Homo sapiens: one gene and its partner. The protein of the gene in region 1 interacts with the protein of each later gene in a biochemical or structural test. Each region holds a gene or a part of one and is shown on either strand. Other genes may lie near its edges. The genes, in order: EEF2KMT and EEF2.

Region 1 (4,012 bases):
GTGGGGAGGGTTCTGGAGACTGGCACCGAGCCAGGCTCCCTGATCCCTGCTTCCCACAGCCAGGGTGGGACCATGTGGGGTCTGGCGGAAAAGCTAGGGAGGGAGCAGAGGTCACAGAGGCTGGCCCACTCTGCTGTCCCGTTTCGGTACAGTAGGCTCGGGAAAGTTAAGACACACCCCCACCTGCCCTCTGGATTTATGGAGCTGACACTCCACAAATGATGCTGGAGCTGGGTGGGCCGGGCTGCGGTTGAGGAAGTGATCAGGATCACGTAGGTGGGCGGGCAAAGGGAGCTTCTGGGACCAGCCTTGAAAGATGGGTGGAATTCTGCAAAGGTTACTTGTTTCTTATTGCAAAAAGTAATACATCATTCTTGCCAACAGAATGATTGGCAGGATTTTCAGTAAAGGTCCAGGTCGGAAGTCGTTTAGACTGGGTTCCCCAGTCTCTGTCAGAACCATGGTACTCTGTTGGGGTGTGAAAGTAGCCACAGATCATCTGTAGATTAAGGGGTGTGGCTTTGTTCCAATAAAACTTTATTTACAAACACAGGCTGTGGGCTGGATTTGGCCTGCAGGCTGTAGTTTGTGATCCTTGATTCAGACAGTTTAGCAAGGCTGCAAAGAACACCGACACCCCCTTGTTACCCACAGATGGGTGAGACTGCGTTGGCCAGAGGCCGAGAGGAGGGTGCTCACAGGGGAATGGGCAGCACGTAGAGGCCGGGAGGTGCTCCAGGGCACCAAGTGTGGGAAAGTGGGACATGCGGGGAAGTTTCCAGAAACTGTGATGTCAAGTTGGAGGCGGAGTGCTGCTGGGGTGTGAAGGGTCTCGAGTCCAAGTGAGGGAGTTAGGGACTTGGGAGGGGTTGTTGTTGGGTCGGGGACCTGGGGTCAGCCAGGTGGTGACCTGGGATGGGGTGGGGACAGGCAATGAGGTAAGCTCTGCTCTTTATTTTTTTGCAGATGCTTTTCTCAAACTTTCCTGATCCTGCGGGCAAGCTAAACCAGTTCCGGAAGAACCTGCGGGAGTCGCAGCAGCTCCGATGGGATGAGAGCTGGGTGCAGACTGTGCTCCCTTTGGTTATGGACACATAACTCCTGGGCCAGAGGCTAAAACCCCAGGACCCCTGCTGTCCTTCCCGCAGCTTCTTCTTGGAGTCTCAGGGCAAACCCTTTCGAGCAGCACCTCCCAGTGGCCAGAAGCTGAAATGACAGCAGTGGTACTGCCTGGTAAAAGAATTGGTTCTGTGACCCGGGAAGCTTTGGTTGGCCTTGATTTCTTCTCTGGAGGCTTGGAAACGCTTCCTCTCTTCTTCTGTTCTTCACGCCCCATGCCCCTGCTAGCGTATTACTGTTCTGTGACTTCCCTGTGACCTCTGCAGAACTCCTCATCCTGCGTTTGGTCTCCAGGTGTCCCCTTTCTGCCGTGTTCCTAACATTTTGATTCCTGTCTTGAAAAAAGCACCTGCTGCACCGTAAGCCCAGGGATGTGGCAGCTGCAGTGGGCTTGGCTTTGTGAGGAACTGAGTGTGTCCACGTTGGGGGAACATCATACTTGATACACACGTTTTTATTTGCACAAAGAAAATGCTATTTTTGGAGCCAGAATTTTCATGTCTGATTTATGGTGATTTTCTTAAGAACCAGAACTGCTGGCAGAAAGGGGGCACCCACACGCTTAGATAGCCGATGTCTTATTAGAGGGCAGTTTGTGGTTCCTGATTTGGAAATTAACATTCTCCAAACATTCCAGTCCAATGAAAGTTTTATCCGCTTTCCCATATAAAAATTCTTCCCATGAGAGTGACTTGATTCTCACAATCCCGTTGGAGTCGTGTGTGAGTCCTACAGGGTGAGATTCAGCATTGCCATCTCCAAGTGCTCTTCGTAGGGAAACAGTTTCTGCTCATGACGAGGTTCCACTTCCCATCTGATCCCGGCCCGGCCTGGAAACAGAGCACATGTGTTTGAGGATGGCGGTGTTTGGGGACAGGACATGAGGGTATTGTGTGGGGCTGCTAGGACAGGCCTGGCGGGGTAGGGGGGTGTCCAAGTCAGTTTACTTGGTTCACAGGTTCCCAGGCCCACCCAGGTGCCTAGAATTGGCCTCCAGGATGGGACCAGAAAGCTGGTTTTGCATAGAAATGGCTAGCAGCAGGCACCGTGCCGCTGTCCACTCTCTGCCTGTGTCTGCCCCAGCACTTGGCACAGCGGGACAGAAGCAGAGATCTGAATAGTCAACCCACTCTTCACAAAGCTTAGAAAGCGGCCGGGCACAGTGGCTCATGCCTGTAATCCCAACACTTTGGGAGGCCAAGGCGGGCGGATCACTTGAGGTCAGGAGTTCGAGACCAGCCTGGCCAACATGGTGAAATCCCATCTCTACAAAAATACAGAAATTAGCCAGGCATGATGGCGAGTGCCTGTAATCCCAGCTACTTGGGAGGCTGAGGTGGGAGAATTGCTTGAACCCAGGAGGTGGAGGTTGCAGTGAGCTGAGATTGTGCCACTGCACTCCAGCCTGAGTGACAGGGTGAGACTAAGTCTCAAAAAAAAAAAAAAAAAACCACACGCACCACACACACACCCACACACACACACAGCTTAGAAGGGGCTGCTGTTCTCATAAGCACAGATGTCTGAAGAGCCGTTAGCCAGAATGATTCTTTTTTTTTGTTTTGAGATATGATCTTGTTCTGTCACCCAGGCTGGAGTGCAGTGGCACAGTCATTGCTCACTACAGCCTCGACTCCTGGGCTCTAGCAATCCTCCCACTTCCTGAGTAGCTGGGATGACAGGTGCGTGCCACCATGCCAGTAATTTTTTTATTTTGTAGAGATGGGGTCCTGAACGCATGGCCTCAAGTGATGCTCCTGCCTCAGCCTCTTTTATTATTTGTTTTTAGACGAAGTTTTACTCTGTTCCCCAGGCTGGAGTGCAGTGGCACAATCTCAGCTCACTGCAACGCCTCCCAGGTTCAAGTGATTCTCCTGCCTCAGTCTCCCGAGTAGCTTTGACTATAGGCGTGCACCACCACGCCTGGCTAATTTTTGTGTTTTTAGTAGAGATGGGGTTTCACCATGTGGGCCAGGCTGGTCTTGAACTCGACCTCCCGTGATCTGCTCACCTCAGCCTCCCAAAGCCTCAGCCTCTTACAGTGTTGGGATTACAGGCGTGAGACACTGTGACCCGGGACGATTTTCAATCACAGTTTTTTGTTACGAGTGGAAAATGCGTATTTATAAGAATGAAGTAGTACAGACATGAATGTGTAGAAATCTCTATAATCCTGCCATCCAAGGATGGCACCTGTTAATGTGTATATCAGGGATGTCCAATCTTTTGGCCTCCCTGTGCCACACTGGAAGAAGAAGAATCGCCTTGGGCCACGCATAAAATACACTAACACTAGCAATACCTGATGAGCTAAAAGAAAAAAAATCACAAAAAAACCTCGTACTGTTTGAAGAAAGTTTACAGATTTGCGTTGGGCCGCAAGTTGGACAAGACTGCTATATGTATATTCTAGGTTTTCCCCTATAGGTATACTTATGTGAAAATGATTATTGTGATAAATTTTGTTTTGAGATGAAGTCTCGCTATGTTGCTCAAGGTGGCCACAAACTCCTGGGCTTAAGCCATCCTCCCGCGTCAGCCTCCTGAGGAGTTGGGAATATAGGTACTCATAACCATGTGTGGGTGATTATTATTAGTTTTTAAACAAAAATGGGGTTGGGCGCAGTAGCTCACGCCCGTATTCCTAACACTTTGGGAGGCTGAGGCGGCAGATCACTTGAGGTCAGGAGTTCAAGACCAGCCTGGCCAACATGGCGAAACCTCAACTCTACAAACAATACAAAAAATAGCCAGGTGTGGTAGCACGTGCCTGTAGTCCCAGCTACTCAGGAGGCTGAGATGGGAGGATAGCTTGAACCTGGGAGGTGGGAGGTTGCAGTGGGCCGAGATGGCACCACTGCACTCCAGCCTGGGCAATACAAAGCCAGACTCT
Region 2 (8,013 bases), on another chromosome or scaffold:
CCACCATATCCCGCGGGGCTCACCTGTCACCCCACAGCTTCTTCATCATGTCCTCTACTTTCTTGGCCCGCTCGGCAGGCCCCAACTGGCCCTCCCCCTTGGCGGCGAACTTGGCCACATACATCTCGGCAAACTGCTTCAGGGTGAAGGCCCACCCGTGGAGGCCAGACCCAAAGCCCACGGTACCGAGGACAGGATCGATCTGGAAGTGTGAGAAACGAGAAGCAGCCGTGAGGGCCCCTGCGCAGAGCCTGAAGCTACGGGCTGGGCGCCTTGGGCATGGGCCTCAGACGCAGGCTTTCTTCAGTAGACATCTGGTCAAAGTGAAGAAATGATCAGTCATCACGAATAGGGGGGCCAGCCCCTCCACCACCCAGGGCAGCGTTCCCTGAGCTCGTCTCTTCCAGCTGCCCAAAGATCAAGGGCTGGGTCAAGTCGGATGAAAACATTCCAGCCCCCTTCTCTGTCACCCAACATTCCTGGCAAAAACACACTTCCAGTCCCCCTCAGCTCAACTCCACTCCCCACCGGCTCCTGCAGATCCCGCTGCGGCAAGCCCACCACCCAGCTAGGGAGGGCCGTACCATGATGTTGCCCATGGGGCCGCTCTCGCCCTCGCCGTAGGTGGAGATGATGACGTTCACGTTCTCCACGATGCGCTGGAAAGTCTGGTAGAGCTCCTCGGGCTCCAGCTGCAGCTCCAGCAGGGCGCGGTCCATCTTGTTCATCATCAGCACAGGCTTGATGCGCTCGGCAATGGCCTGCCGCAGCACTGTCTCCGTCTGCACGCACACGCCTGGGGACACGGGGGACAGGGCGGCGCTGTCATCCTCAAGCAAGGATGGCCCCCGGTTCCAGGCCGTGCCTCAGGGGGACCCACTGCTTACCTGACACGCAGTCCACCACCACCAATGCGCCATCGGTGACTCGGAGGGCAGCAGTCACCTCCGAGGAGAAGTCGACATGCCCGGGGGAGTCAATGAGGTTGATGAGGAAGCCGGCACCGTCCTTGCTCTGCTTGATGAAGTTCAAGTCATTCTCCGAGAGCTCGTAGAAGAGGGAGATGGCACTGATGGAGGGAGGGACTCGTCAGGGGGACAGGAGCCACACACCTGGCCCAGGGAGTCTGGGATGCTGTCAGAAGCCAGGCTGCTCCTCCCTCCATGACTCATCCCTGGAGAGGCTCCCACAAGAGCCAACCCACCCTTGTCCTTTGCCTCTGTCCGAGACATGCCACCCCCATGACAGGGAACTCCTGGTACCAGCCCCATAGCCAGATCCTCAGAGCCCTCCTGACCAGACATCCTGCCCCACCGACTTGGTCCCAAGATTCATCACACCTGACTCAAAGTAGCAACTAAAAGACCCAGCAGGACGGCAAAAGCCTCCAGAGACTCCGACCCTCCCCTCCTCACTTCTGCCCCTGCTCCAGGGGAAATGAAGAGCCTTAGCCAGAGTCCCTCACCAATGTACCAACCCAGGACAAAAAGCAGTTGGGGTCACCGTACTCTGCGCTCCCCCTACTCATATCGGGGCCAGAAACTGACATGGAATGAACATCATCCAGTGCAACACAGGAGCTTCCCAGCGTCCCAAGCACTAGAACACCCTCCCCTCCCAGGTGTGACAGCCAAACCTCTCCAGATATTGTAGGAGTGGGGGCAAGTCCCCCAGGGAGGGAGAACCACGGAGTTAAGCCCCCTCCTCAAGAAAACCTTCCAGCTCGCAGTACCCCGAATCCCTGTGCCTCTCCATCCTGTCTCGCTGGACTGAACCTCACTCATTCTCCCATGAATTAAGAAACCAGGGGAAAGAGACGTTGCCAAGTCTCTCCCCGCGCACCCTGGCCCAGTGGCCTCCAGCTGCCAGGCCAGCACCTCCCTGCCTGGGTACAGAGGGCACAGGGAGCTCACGTTGACTTGATGGTGATGCAACGCTCCTGCTCGTCCTTCCGGGTATCAGTGAAGCGTGTCTCCCCGGCCCGGGCCGAGGCGATGATGCCCGCCTTGCACACCAGGGAGTCTGTCAGCGTGGACTTGCCATGGTCCACGTGGGCGATGACAGACATGTTGCGGATGTTGGCCTTCTTGTCCATGATGGCGCGGATCTGGTCTACCGTGAAGTTCACCTGGGCAAGACAAGGAGGCTCAGACCAGCTCGTGATTTCCAGGAACACAGCATGGCACGGAGCGTTCAGTCCAAACGAACCAGCATGCCCAAGGCCAGGAGGGGGTTGGTGCTGGGGTGCCCCAAGCCCACCGAATCTTGCCAGCCTAACACCCCTTAAGAGCCACCCCGCAATCTCCAAGGAACCACCGTTAATAGGTGTCATTCATGATTGACAACCCAGAAATAAAAGTGCTCAGGAATAAAACTGAGTGTCAACAGATTTCCTTGATACCAGGTACAAATACTAAAGTCTCATTTGGGGCCAAACACGTAAGGGATGAATCCTCTCCTAAAGCCCCCTCCACGTTGTCACCGGGCCACCCAAACTTCCCCGAGCAAGAAGCTTCATCATAAAATGCAAGGTCACCCCTTGGCAAACGGGATCAGACAAGGCCACCCACCCCAGGAAATAACGGGGAGCCGGAACGGCCCTAACTGCCACAAGCCTACACCTCGTGTCTCAATAAGAGTCTTTGTACATCTGGGAGTCATAGGAAGGACAAGTGCCTAAGGTCGACGATTAACAGCATCAGGAGAAGGTATTTGGAAGGAAAAGGGGAGCCTTTCAGGTGTCGCTTTGCTCGTTCTGCCATTCCCTGCCGCCCCTAGTCCCCCGGCAGAAAATCGATCTCAAACTCGCGGCCCGCGGGTTACATAAGGCGCCTCCCTGTCTCCCCGCTTCCACCGCGGTGCCCGCCATTACTACGCCTGCCACATCATCATTCCCCACCCCCATCCCCGCTAACAACCCAGCTCCAACCAGGTCTGGGCAAGGTTATGGCGCCCTCGGAAACGGAGAAAGGGCTCGGTGAACAGCGCGGCGCACAGACATGGCGGCGGCCGCTTCCCCAGCCCCGGGTCCTCCGGCCCCGCCGCCGCTACGTCTCCTCCTGGCACGGGGGGCCCCAGCGTCCCAGGCTAGGCAGCGTAGGCCCCGCGGAGGCCCCGCCGCCGCTCCGGGGCACCAGCGAGGCAGGGTTACTCACCATGGTGGCGGATGGCGGTGGATTCTCCCAGGTAGAACCGAAAGAAGCGAGTCGCGCCGAGGATGGCGGCGACGACGGCGGAAGAGAACGCTGACGTCAACACTCAGCTTTTTATAGGCGGACGCCGGTTGGGCGGGTCATGTGACTGCGCTGCGAAGGCGGGGCGAAGGGACGCCGCGCAAGCGCACGGAGGCGTGTCCCCCCGCCCGTTAACCCATTCGGCGCCGGCGCGGCGCTCTAGAATAGAAGCTGGGCATCTCGGGGGCGGTGGTCGCCCTCGGTGTGCAGTGTTCAGGTGCACAAAGTAAAGAGCGCCGTTTTAGCTGAGAACGAGAACCATAGCAACGATATTAGCTTACAAGTTGTCCAGTACTTCTATTAAAACCAATTTACAAGGTGAATAGAGTCTGTGGATTATACCCAAGTCAATTTCCCTGTTTGGACATTGTTACGTAAGACGATACCCCTGGGAGAAGCCGAGGGAAAAAGGACACTCGCGACCACTATACTGTTTTTGCAACTCCTTACCTGTAATTATTTCTAAATAAAAACTTTATAAGAAGCAGGCATCGGAATCACTGATCCCACAAATGCATACTGAGCATCTATACACCAGGCATTGTTAGGGGTTTTGTAGATATAGCAGTGGACCAAACACCTTGCTAGCTTGACCACACTGCGTGTTCTTCTACCAGCTACTAGGATTTCTCTGTGCCTCAATTTCACCTGCTCGGAGGTGATCAATACCACCCTATTGTTTGGGGGAGAGTGAAACGAACTAAAGACATCTAAAAGAATTAGGACCGTGCCTGATACCCAACGCTCAATAAACGCTATCTATTTTAATTAGCTAAGATTGCTATTAATAAAACAGTTATTTATTTCAGGACTGGTTTGCCATGTCCCAGGCACCCGGCTAAGCGGTTTACTGGCACAATTTCATTTTCTATTTCATTTCCTCTCCAGGGGGAGGCGCAGGAAGACTGTTTAGCATTTGTGTCCTAATCTGACCCTAAGAAACAGTTGAATGTATTTCATATCTCATGAATTGGCATTCAATTGTGTAACTCTATCCCTTATGAAAAGCCCAACCCGCTGTTTAGCACATAGTAGGTACTCAGCATTTCTTGCATGAATGATGTTCTCACAGTGCAAATGAACCCCCTGCGGTACATCTTTCCTTAAACTCACTTTGTGAAACAGGAGAGCCACTGCAGTGCTTTTCCTGGGCTGGGAGAGGGGGAGGTGTGGATCCACAAAAAGCAATGCAAATTCCAGCCTGGACTCTAAAATAAACCTGTACACTCCTCCCCCTCACGAATGCTTCGGGCACTTTGCTTTACAAAGCGCTGTCTCAACCTTGGGTTTCATTTAACGGATGATTGCTCTTCCTATCACCATTTAACCCAGTGGAAAACTGAAAAGTATCTTCCGAAAGGATTGAGGCTCTGAAAGGCAGAGGGCGCGGCAGGGAGCAGATGGGAGCGCCCGGGGTCCCTAACCACCTACACCTGTACCTGTGACGCGTTTAGTTAAGTTGCAAGTCAAGCGCATGCGCCATTTGGGGCATGAGTTTTTAGCAGAGGGGTAGTCAGTTTCGCATTATTAATAATAAAATTCTTCAAAATTTTTAAATGCACTGAGCACCTGCTACGTGTTGCGTTTCCTATTGGGGGCTTCGCAGCCGTTTTTTCCGTGCAAAGTGGGAGCATTTCAGAGATGTAATGGAAAGGTTTTCATTAAAAGAGGTGTCAGGCGAGAGGCGGAGGTTGCAGTTAGCCGAGATCGCGCCACTGCTCTCCAGCCTGGCGACAGAGCGAGATTCCGTCTCAAAAAAATTTTTAAAAATTTTAAAAATTAAAGAGGGGTTAGGCTGCTTGCGGTGGATCACGCCTGTAATCCCAGCACTTTGGGAGGCCGAGGCAGGCAAATCACCTGAAGTCAGGAGTTCGAGACCAGCCTACCCAATATGGAGAAACCCCGTCTTTACTAAAAATAAAAAAATTAGCCCGGCGTGGTAGTGAACGCCTGAAATCCCAGCTACTTTGGAGGCTGAGGCAGGAGAACCGCTTGAACCCGAGAGGCAGAGGTTGCAGTGAGCCGAGATCACGGCACTGCATGCACTCCAGCCTGTGCGACTGAGAGTAAGACTCTGTCTCAAAAAAAAAAAAAAAAAAAAAGGAGGGGGGGCTGTTCACAGGTATCCCGGAACTTAATAAAAGAGGGGTTGAATTTCTTCTCAAGTGCATGGGTTGCTTATTGAAAAATTCTAACATCATGTAATTTAAAGAACTAGGGGGAGAGCTTAAGGGAAAAAGGGGAATTTTCAACCCCATAACTGCAGGGATGGAGCCAGGTGTTGGCAGGGAAGGATCTCTCCCACTGTCATCCCCACATCCATGAAGAGCAGAATCCTGGAGTACCACAAGCAGCCACAACCAGGTCAGCTGTAATAAGTACAATAATAAATATACGCTGGGTCTTTTAGGGTGGGGACCAATAAAAAAATTCACCTCTGCAGAGAAGCTCCGCTGCGCATGCGCCTGCTGCGGCGCCAGGAGAGCTCAGAGACCGCAGTAGCGGCCCCTGCTGACCGACAGTCGCCAGTGCAGGCCTCTCGACACTGCCTTTTTTTTTTTTTTTTTTTTTTTTTTTAAGACCAAGTCTCGCTCTGTTGCCACGCTGGAGTGCAGTGGTGCGGTCTCAGCTCACTGCAGCCTCCGCCACCCGATTCAAGCGATTCACCTGCCTCAGCCTCCCGATTAGCTGGGATTACAGGCGCCTGCCACCACACCCGGGTAATTTTTTTGTGTTTTTAGTAGAGACAGGGGTTTCACCATGTTGGCCGGGCTGGTCTTGAACCCCTGACCTCGTGATCTGCCCGCCTTGGCCTCCTAAAGCGCTGGGATTACAGGCGTGAGCCACCGCGCCCGGCCAACACTGTCTTTTAACAGTTTATTGAGCGTTTACTAGGACCTGACCTCACGGTCCTTTAAATCAAATACTTCAGCTAACCTACCCACACCCTGGGCTTCGGGTGGCCTCCTTTACGCCTGAGAAAATGGAGACTCAGATAAGTTAAGTCATTTGCCCACGTTCACAGAGCTAGTAAAGGTGCAGCCAAATCCGACTCAAGTAGTGGTTTAATCGGGAAGGAGCCCGGTCCTGCAACCGTTGTCTAGATGCATTTCAGATTTGGGAAAACGGGCCGGGCACGGTGGTTTATGCCTGTAATCCCAGCACTTTGGGAGGCAGAGGCAGGCGGATCATGAGCTCAGGAGATTGAGACCATCCTGGCCAACATGGCGAAACCTTGTCTCTACTAAAAATACAAAAAAATTAGCTGGGTGTGGTGGCACGTGCCTGTAATCCCAGCTACTCGGGAGGCTGAGGCACGAGAATCGCTTGAACCTAGGAGGTGGAGGTTGCAGCGAGCTGAGATTGTGCCACTGCACTCCAGCCTGGGTGACAGAGAGAGACTCCGTCTCAAAAAAAAAAAAAAAAAAAAAGGCCGGGCGCGGTGGGTCACGCCTGTAATCCCAGCACTTTGGGAGGCCGAGGCGGGCAGATCATGGGGTCAGGAGATCAAGACCATCCTGGCTAACATGGTGAAACCCCGTCTCTACTAAAAATACAAAAAATTAACCGGGCATGGTGGCAGGCGCCTGTAGTCCCAGCTACTCGGGAGGCTGAGGCAGGAGAATGGCGTGAACCTGGGAGGCGGAGCTTGCAGTGAGCCGAGATCGCGCCACTGCACTCCAGCCTGGGCGACAGAGCGAGACTCCATCTCAAAAAAAAAAAAAAAAAACAAAAAACGTGGTGGCTCACGCCTGTAATCCCAGCACTATGGGAGGCCAAGGCGGGCAGATCATGAGGTCAGGAGTTCGAGACCAGCCTGGCCAATATGATGAAACCCCATCTCTACTAAAAATACAAAAATTAGCTGGGCATGGTGGCAGACACCTGTAGTTCCAGCTACTCGAGAGACTGAGGCAGGAGAATTGCTGGAACCCGGGAGGTGGAGGTTGCAGTGAGCTGAGATGGCACCATTGCACTCTAGCCTGGGCAACAGACCAAGACTCTGTCTCAAAAAAAAAAAAAAAAAAAGTGGATTTTGTCTTTTAGATGATTAAACAAATGGGTTCAGGGAGGCCTGGTGAGTCTGTGTAGTAAGAACAGGCGCAATGGCTCACGCCTGTAGTCCCAGCACTTTGGGAGGCGGAGGTGCGTGAATCACTTGAGGTCAGGAGTTGGAGACCAGCCTGGCCAACATGACGAAACCCCATCTCTACTAAAAATACAAAAATTAGCCGGGCATGGTGGCAGGCGCCTGTGGCCCCAGCTACTCAAGAGGCTGAGGCAGGAGAATTGCTTGAACTCAGGAGGCCGAGGTTCCAGTGGGCAGAGATCACGACACTGCACTCCAGCCTGGGTGATAGTGGGAGACTCCACACCCTGAAAAGAAAGAAAAAAGGCCGGGCGCAGTGGCTCATGCCTGTAATCTCAGCACTTTGGGAGACCGAGGAGGGCGGATCACAATGTCAGGAGTTAAGACAACAGCCTGGCCAGCATGGTGAAGCCCCGTCTCTACTAAAAATACACAAATTAGCTGGGCATGGTGGCGCGCCTGTAGTCCCAGCTACTCGGGAGGCTAAGGTAGGAGAATCGCTTGTCCCCGGGAGGCAGAGGTTGCAATGCGCCTAGATCGCGCCACTGCACTCCAACCTGGACGACAGAGCGAGACTCCATCTCAAAAAAAAAAAAAAAAGAAAAAGAAGATAATTGAAACAATTACCCTCCCAGGTAGAAAGTCCCTGCTGATGGGGTGCATCTGTTCAGCAGCGGTGTTGAGAGCTCA

Evidence for each region.
Region 2: of the proteins of EEF2KMT (region 1) and EEF2, one has a biochemical effect on the other in vitro, tested with the Homo sapiens proteins (one study listed by BioGRID).

The regions. Positions count from the first base shown.
Region 1 is NC_000016.10:5,083,784-5,087,795, forward strand, and holds the end of EEF2KMT (protein-lysine N-methyltransferase EEF2KMT), read right to left. Parts: intron 3,597-4,012; exon of another isoform or gene 1,950-3,596; coding exon 1,849-1,949; 3' UTR 1,099-1,848; coding exon of another isoform or gene 967-1,098; 3' UTR 501-966; downstream 1-500. Other genes in the region: ALG1 (chitobiosyldiphosphodolichol beta-mannosyltransferase), read left to right, coding at 967-1,098. UniProt on the Homo sapiens protein: Catalyzes the trimethylation of eukaryotic elongation factor 2 (EEF2) on 'Lys-525'.
Region 2 is NC_000019.10:3,982,223-3,990,235, forward strand, and holds the start of EEF2 (elongation factor 2), read right to left. Parts: upstream 3,242-8,013; 5' UTR 3,159-3,241; coding exon 3,156-3,158; intron 2,129-3,155; coding exon 1,914-2,128; intron 1,070-1,913; coding exon 888-1,069; intron 797-887; coding exon 585-796; intron 351-584; exon of another isoform or gene 285-350; intron 203-284; coding exon 24-202; intron 1-23. UniProt on the Homo sapiens protein: Catalyzes the GTP-dependent ribosomal translocation step during translation elongation.